Linked DNA regions of Homo sapiens: regions 1 and 2 are each linked to region 3. Evidence: fine-mapped expression QTL. A gene starts in region 3. Each other region holds a variant in brackets. All regions are shown on one strand. Distances are from middle to middle.

Region 1 (2,763 bases), 45 kb after region 3:
AACCCTGTCTCTACTAAAAATACAAAAAATTAGCCAGGCGTGGTGGCACATGCCCGTAGTCCCAGCTACTCCGGAGGCTGAGGCAGGAGAATTGCTTGAACCTGGGAGGCGGAGGTTGGAGTGAGCCGAGATCGCACCACTGCACTCCAGCCTGGGTGACAGAGCGAGACTCCGTCTCAAAAAAAAATAATAATAAAAAAAGAAAAATGGAAAATGTGCTCCAGAAGGAAGTTGGGGGAAACCAAAGGTTTATTTTCCTCCTCATTTCCCCCATTCCACCCCAAGTCATTACAATCCTAGATAGTGCTCAGAAAATGTGCAGGAGTAGGCTGATAAATGTGTTCATTCTTTCCACAGCGTTGGTTCTTTATTATCTATTGGATAGTATTCTAGTCTTGGTCACACAGCAGTAAATAAAACAGACAAAATCCTTGCTCTGTGGAGCACACATTGATTCATTTGCAATTGTAAGTAAAAAAAAGAAAATGAAGTCCTTCCTCTTTCCTCTGAAGCTACCAATAAATGTTGCTTCCTTCTCCCTTACAAAATAAATGCACTCTCTTTCTATTTTCAACCTATGCGTCAATATTTACTGAGCTCAGCCCTGGGCTAGACAGAGGGAAATGTAAAGGAAGCATTCTATGCCATGTTGTTCTTGTTGTCTGTGGCCTGATAGAGTGGAGAAGACAGGGCTAATAATGGGAAAGCCATCACAGAACAATTCAAGGCCAGCTGAGGCCCCGTTATTATTTGTGGGAGGAAAGACAAGAGAGGAGAGGTCACCATGGAATGATCTCTCCAGGAGACTTTGACAAAAAAGAGATACTTCCATGGGTGTGAAGGAAGAGGGGATTTGGTTGGGAGGATGTCTCCCGGTGCTTGGTGACAAACACATGTCGACTGAGTGAATTGGCACACAGGTTGAAGGTACCTGTCTTAATATTTGAAATAGTAAATGTAGTTAGATTTGGGCTTCCCAAAGTTGGTTTGCAGAAACCTCTGAGCATGAGTGATTCACCCTGTAGCAGCTCAGACTCCACCAGCTTTCACCAGTAAGAATCATCCAGTTAGGTTCTGAGTCCCCTGTGGGA[C/T]GCTGTGTGGTTACAGCTGCAGCTGATCAAAGGGCAAGTGAAAGAACACCAAAGCACCAAGGTGGCCGTTTGATGTGGCTGGCCGTTAGCGGGGATTGGGCTGAAACTGCATCCTCTGCTCAAATAAGGTCTATTAGCCACTGGTGACTTTTGATCCCTTACTGATCTAGGGGAAGTCAAATTGACAACCCCTTAGTTAAAAGAAGCTGCTTTGCATTATTGATGCTCTGAGGATCTGGTCACTCTGTTCTCTTCCCGCAGTGCATCTCAGAAAAGTGCCTCGAGCTATTTGAGAGAAGGACTGTGTATGAATTATTCCTTAAAAAACAGACACACATTTCCCTCTACTGCCTCTGCTTCCCAAGCAGACCTTCAAAACATAGCTTAGCGGGAGACTACCCTGCCTACCTTCAAAAGACAGCTTAGCTGGAGACTAACAGGCAGGGTGGAGGTGAGTGAGGGGAGCTTAGAAGGAAGCCAGCAGGAGCCAGCAGCTGGAAGGAGGCACAGTTCAGCCTTGGGTTCAGTTCTGTCCATTTGGGCTTGATCTGTGGCTCAAAGTGGCTTCTCTGGGTTTTGATTTCTTATCTCTAAAATCAGAACAACAATGTCCTCTCCTTCCTGCCGCCTTCATGGCAGGGGTGGTGGGGTGCTATTTTAAAGTATTATGAAACAATCATTTTCATTTCTTTCTTGCTGATTTTATGAGTAGGCAATTGCCAGCGTATGATGTATTCAAAAATCTATCCATTACCCTTAGCCCACATATCTTTTCCACTTCTTGCAGAACTGCTGGAAATTCATCAGAGATTCATTATCTTCTCTCTTCGTGCCTCTTCCAAACACATATAAGTGCTCTGATTTTTAAGTCATTAACACTTCAGGGGGAATTAATTTTTTTAGAGGTCTTTCTTTGATGACTTTGTTATCAGAGGGCTCCTGAGAATACAGGAGCAGGAAGGAGGAAAGAAGAAAGGACGGGACCCTGCTGAGAGGGCTAAGGTGCAGAAGGAGATCTTAAAACAAGATTGTCTATGAGCAGAATTTTGCCAGAGGCCAGCTTTGTTCCTGGGGTTCATTTCTGCTTACATGGATGTCACCAAGACTGTGACATCCTGGAGATCATTATAAGACTATGGGATCAGACAGACCTGGGTATGTGTGGCTCTGCCATTCATTGACTTGTGACCTTGGAAAGATTACTTAACTTTCCAGTCTCATTTGCAAAGCAAAGGTAATAATTATCTTCCAAAAATGCCTCTGGTCTAGCATAGAAATCAGGGCAGGGGAGACAATTTATCAAAAATGCTTTCCAGCCCCTCAACCTTACCATTTGATTATATTAAACAGTTTTAACAATGATCTCTTACAACATGGAAAGGGACTTACTTAATGGATAATGTGGGCAAAAACTGGAAGCAGGAGGTGATGACATTGACCTCCTGTATCCCTCACCTCTCTAAGACCCTCACAAGAGAGGTGGCTTGAGACAGAGGTGTCCTTAGTGACCCCTCATGGACAAATCGTCACTTGTGTGCTGACAGCTCCTGATTGGGTGGTTTGTGTCACAGGGAACAATAGCGTAGGCAAGATGTGCATGCGCCCATCCCACTCCCTGACCAGGCTCCAGCCCTGTGCCTCATGGGTCCATCTCTTCCAGGGATCTCATCTC
Region 2 (2,763 bases), 68 kb before region 3:
TGCCTCAATGCTCATATTCAATGGATTGCATTCTTCAGAACCGAGCCCTGAAAACACATGGGACTCATTGATCCTGCAGCAGGTTCTTTCAATAACACAGTGTGGCATCTGAGGAGGGACATCCAGTTTAACTAAGGAATGATTTTCAGCCTGAATTACCAGAGATGTGAACTAATAGGAAATAACAGAGGCCAAGAGAAGTCTTTTCTCTTTTCAAGCGTTAGGGCAAACAAGAAGAAATGAAGGTGAACAGATTCTTTCATGTACAGGCAGTGGAAAAAACCTTAATAGAATCCATCTCTTAGAATAGTAGGTGGTGGGGCGGCGGGGGTGGAAATTGTTGCTTATAGGTAGCTACCTCCTAATGCAAATGCTGCAAATTGAGGTAATAGCATGAGGTAGTTTGGTCAAACCAACCAGACTCCTACCCATCCAACAAATACTGAATGACGATGTGGCAGGAAAATGAACGGCCAGCATACTTGCTGCGATGCCCTGAGGAGTTAGCTTCATGGGTCACACTATCAACAACCCATCACTCAGCATTACAGAAGACTGCCTATTTCCTATGAATTTCCTAGAGTGTGGGTAGATCCCCATTTTATCTTATCAGCTATTATTGGCTAAAATTATCATATTTTAGCTATTATCAGCATAATTTTAGCATATTATCAGCTAAAATTTTAAAAAACAGGGCATAGGTTAGGAACCAGGATACAGGCAGTTGTGGGTAGAAATTCTTAACTCATGCATGAGCTCATCTCTGCAACTGCCCACGACGATGACTGAGAATGACACTGAAAATGTGAAGCATAAGTTGGGGGCTGAGCTTGTACACAGAAGAAAAGATTATGACTAATCTCTTAAGGCAGTGGGACCCAAAATAGCTTTGCATGTGGGGATACACAGGCAGATGGAAGAAAGGAACTTTTCTTGGGTATATGTCTAGCAGCTGCAACTGGCAGTCTTGCTTTGGGTCTTCTCTTCATATTTGATGGCATATTCCCAAATGAGAAGTAACACCCAGGGTGTGAGCCACACCACGATGGTACAGCTTCTTGTCCTCATGAGGAACAACCCCAACACTTGGCCATCTATGGAAAAGTCCATAACAGCTGCCGAGATATATCATATTATGAGATCCTCAGACTGGAATGAGCTAAGAATCAGAGGGGAGGTCTTAAGGCCTCTTTGTCTCCTCCTTCCCCAATCTGTTAATTATTCTGCAGTAAGAGGAGGAATAAACAACCTGTGTAAGAACGACACTCCTATCCCCAATAGCACTGGGGAAAGTTATTTATAACAGAATAACTGATTATGAGCTGTCTCTGAAATTTAAACTCAACACCCCCGAGAAAAGAGGTAGGCTATCAGGAGAGAGGAAAGGAGCTCATAGTTAATGCAGGAGGCTCCCAAACTCTGCCTTCCAAACTTGCCACTCAAAATCTTCCTCAAAGGCCAGGAGGCCAGCCCTTATTTATCTTCTTTGTTCTGCTGAGGCAATACAGACATTCAGCACAGCCCGTATAAGAAAACCAGCTATGGATTCTGTAGTATCTGGCTGGCCTGCTCTCCAAAACCATCTTCATATGAGTTACACACTCTCTTCGAAGAGGACAGCAATAGCTCAGTGTCTGAATTCTAACACTCCCAAGGCCTGGATTCCCA[G/C]ATTTGCAGCCAGTTTTTTGTTTGTTTTGTTAACAAAGCAAATACCCTTGTGGTTTGATTCTTCCATTCCTTTGTTGACGCATATCAAAATCAGATGGAAATGTTCTCATAAAAACTTCAAGGACAAATGAAAAACGAGACCACAAGTGAAACAGCTCAAGAAAAGAGTATGGCCAAATTCTTTTTTTTTTTTTTCTTTTTTCAAGTTGCCAAAGCTTTGCAATTTTATATTGAACCACGTTTCTAAAAACAAGAGTAAAGGCTTTATCTACAGCCTGTCCGAATGTGTTTACCGTGTTCGGGCTCAATGCCACCGCTGTTAGCCTCAACTTCTTCTGACGGTGAGTTCTTCAACGGAAGCCTGAGCACTCTGCCTTGTGCACGATATTCTTCCAGCTCAGACTGGAGTTCATCTACTTGGTCTTGTAGTACCTGGGATTTAAAAACCAACACTGGTCTTAGATGTGACACCAAAAGCATAAGCAACAACAACAACAAAAAAGATAAATTGGATATCATCAAAACAAAATCTTTTGTGCTTCAAAGGACACTATCAAGAAAGTAGAAATGTTTTGCAAATTAAGTATCTGATAAGGGACTTGTAACTAGAATATATAAAGACTATTATAGCTCAATAATAAGACAATTTTAAAAATGGGCAAATGATCTGAATTGATATTTCTCTAATGATGATATACAGATGACTAATACATACATGTAAAAGATATTCAATATCATTACCTATCAGGGAAATACAAATCAAAGCCACAATAAGATACCATTTCACACTTACTAGGGTGGCTAGAATCAAAAAGACATACAATAACGACTGTTGGTGAAGAAGTGGAGCAATTGGAACTATCATACTAGTGGGAATATAAAACAGTGCAACCACTTTGCAAGAAGTTTAGCAGTTCCTAAAACGGTTAAACATAGGGTTACCATACAACCTAGCAATTCTACTCCTAGATATATGCCCATACAAAAACGTGCGCACAAATTTTCATAGCTGCGTTACTCATAATAGCCAAAATCCCCCAAATGTCCCTTAACCGGTGAATTAATAAACAAAATGTGGTATATCTACGCAATGGA
Region 3 (2,763 bases):
GTCAGGGGCCGCTTCGGTAGCTACAGAAGCCTAGCCGCTGGAAGCTTCCTTCCCCGACACTCCATACCTCCATGCCACACCTTTTAGGCAATAACCAAATGTCATTTTGTTCTTTCCCCTTCTCCTGGGCATTATACTGGGAAACTGTTTACGCGCATCGACCCCGCACACCTCCAAAAATCTCCACTTTCCGGGCTCCAAGCAGCTCTCCGCTACTCAGACAGCCCAGGCTAACACCTCGGATTTCCCCATGCAGTTTCCTCTGCAGCGTCTCAATCACAAGGCTGTACGGGCGGCACATGCCAACGGAACCACCACCCCTTCTGCTCCCTCGGGGACTCAAGCCTGCTCTCGGTCAAAGCACAGAAGCGGCTTTCAGCTCCGGGCAGGCGGCCGGGGCGTCGGGGGTACTGGAAGTGCCCAAACCCAGCGGTGCTGCCGCGCGGGGAAGCGGAGGTGCGGCCGCAGGACAAGCGCGCCTCCCAAGTCCCTGGCCACCTGCGATGCGTCCTCAACTCGCCTGCCCATCGCCACTACCAGAAACCTCAGACAGCCCATTGTGTGGGCAGGCAGCGCGCTCCCCCGGCCCCGCCGCCCTCGCCTACCTTCTGTCGGTCTCTCCGGAGCGCCCGCACAGCCGGCAGCCCGCCTCCAGCGCTCTGCAAAGCGAAGGAGGACGCTTTGTTAGGGCTGGAGAAACGGGACAATACTTCGCAGCCGGCGCAGCGGTTCCGGGCGGGCGTCCTTCAAAAGGACGCGAATGGGGACCCGCGTGAGCGTCATTTCCATATGTAAGGGGCCAGCTCTTACAAAAGCGCGGCTCTCGGGGGCCGCGGGCTGCAGCGCGCATCCTCCCCGCCCCCGCCGGCCCGCCCCCGCCCGCGCAGCCCGCGCCTCCGGGACCGGCCCCTCCTCCCGCCTCCGAAGCAGCCCCGTCCCCGCCTCGTCCTCCCGCCCGGCCGCTGCTTCCTCCCGGCCCGCAGGGATTGCGCCCCGCTGGCCCCGGACCCCAAATGGGAAGCCCCCGAGTGATCCGGTGCCCAGTTCGCTCCGGGCTCTCAGGGCCTCGCCGACGGCGCGGGGGCAGCGCGAGGCCTCCGTGCACCCCCAGGCCGTGGGTCCGGGTCCCCGGGGTTGCGCCACTTACTGCGTCCCGGGGCTCAGGCGCCCGGCGCCGCCGCGGGAACCATGGCCGCTGGCGCACTCCGGGCTTGGCGGCGGCAGCGGGACGGCCGCGCCCAGCGCGCTCGGCTCCCGGCTCGGCCGCGGCCACCCGGAGCTCTGGACGCCGGGGAGGAAGGGCCGGGCCCGCGCGGGGAGGAGGAGTCAGGGCGACGCCGGCCCCGGCGCGGCTCCTCCTCTGCGGCCCGCGCGGCTCAGGCAGCGGAGGGAGGAGCGGGCGGCGCCGCCTGAGCCCTCGCAGACGCGCCCTCCCGCTCCGAGCGCCCGCCTCCGAGATCTGAAGTTAGAAACGCCGGGGCTCCGGGTGCGGGTGTAGGAGGCTGGCGCCCCGAGGTCGCCACCGAGCTGGGGCTGGCGCTGCCACCCTCGCCCCTTGCCTGTCCGCCTCCCTTTCTTTCCCAACACGCCTACACTCACCCGCACCGCGGACACTCGGGCCGCAGCGTCTTCGCGCAGAGGAAGGGCCCCCGCCTTCAGCAAGCGGGACTTTAAGGGGGTGATTTCCCAGCCCTCGGGTGTCGATTGGCCATCAACATTGGAAAGGGTGTTCAGGAGGCAGAAGGGCTGTAGAAGTGACTCGGAACCCTGTAGAGCGAGCGCGACCCTCCTGCCGGGTCTACACTGGCTTCCGCACCTGCCCACCACGTCCTCACAGGCTCCCGCCCCTGTGCAGCCTTCTCCGGGTGAAGCTAACCCTCGGTCGCAAGCCACACAGGACGAAAACTCCTTGGAGTTGGTGGTTCCCAGCCCAACAGTTGCTCGATATTAATCGCCTCCTACCTACTACCCCAGAGTCTGCGTTCTCACTCCCCCATCCCTACACTTCTGATCTCATTGCAGTCAAATAGGATCCCAAGTCCAGGCCATGGTTCTTTTTGAGCTGCAGGGTTAAATGTGTTGCCCTTGAAGGATCCGCCTGATGGATTACAACCCACAAGTCTGGTTATTTTAGCAGGAAACTGGTGATTCCTTTTCTACCGAGAAAGCAAGCAACAGACAAGAGGAAACCAGCATTCCTTGAGAATCCAGTGCGCTAGAAACTCGACAGAAATTATCTTATCTAATTCTCACATCACTCTTAGGAGGCAGACATTATTTTGCAGATGAGGAAAATGGATCTCCCAGAAGTCAAAGAGCTTCCTCAGGATCACACAGCAGGAACTCCACAGAACTGAGATTCAAAAGCAGATCACATATGTGGCAAAATTGCATAGAACTGAATATACACTCACAAATGAGAGCACGTGAAACTCATGAAATTTGAATAAGACATTTGGACTACACTAATGTCCATTTACTGATTGTAATATTGTTCTACAGTTATGCAAAATGTTACCATTGAGAAAAATTAAGTGAAGCGTCTATAGGGAATCTCTCTATTATTCCTTACAACTTCAAGCGAATTTACAGTTACCTCAAAAAATTTTTTTAAAAATTTTAAACATCTCAGTCTTATTCAAAAGCCCAGGCTCTCTTCTTTCAACACGGTATATAAGCGTGCCTGCAGAATAAGAGAGATTTATGCTCCTCTCTCCTTTTTAAACAGTCTTGAATAAGTACACATACACACACAAACACACA

What was found.
Region 1: its variant is fine-mapped to the expression of NIN in T cells (TOPMed, PIP above 0.99).
Region 2: its variant is fine-mapped to the expression of NIN in fibroblasts (GTEx, PIP above 0.99).

What each region holds. Positions count from the first base shown.
Region 1 is chr14:50,874,422-50,877,184 of GRCh38, forward strand. All of the region lies in intron 1 of ABHD12B (abhydrolase domain containing 12B), which reads left to right. Among named protein-coding and RNA genes, the nearest start is that of ABHD12B, 3.8 kb to the left of the region's middle. RefSeq lists a silencer at 1,115-1,164. The variant C/T (reference allele first, on the strand shown) is at 1,092.
Region 2 is chr14:50,761,865-50,764,627 of GRCh38, forward strand. NIN (ninein) reads right to left here. Exons shown (of 31, transcript NM_020921.4): 15 at 1,962-2,100; 16 at 1-47. Among named protein-coding and RNA genes, the nearest start is that of NIN, 68 kb to the right of the region's middle. The variant G/C (reference allele first, on the strand shown) is at 1,669.
Region 3 is chr14:50,829,859-50,832,621 of GRCh38, forward strand. NIN (ninein) reads right to left here and starts at 1,304. Exons shown (of 31, transcript NM_020921.4): 1 at 1,148-1,304; 2 at 606-659. RefSeq lists an enhancer at 1-35 and silencers at 606-725, 746-795, 866-1,145, 1,196-1,645.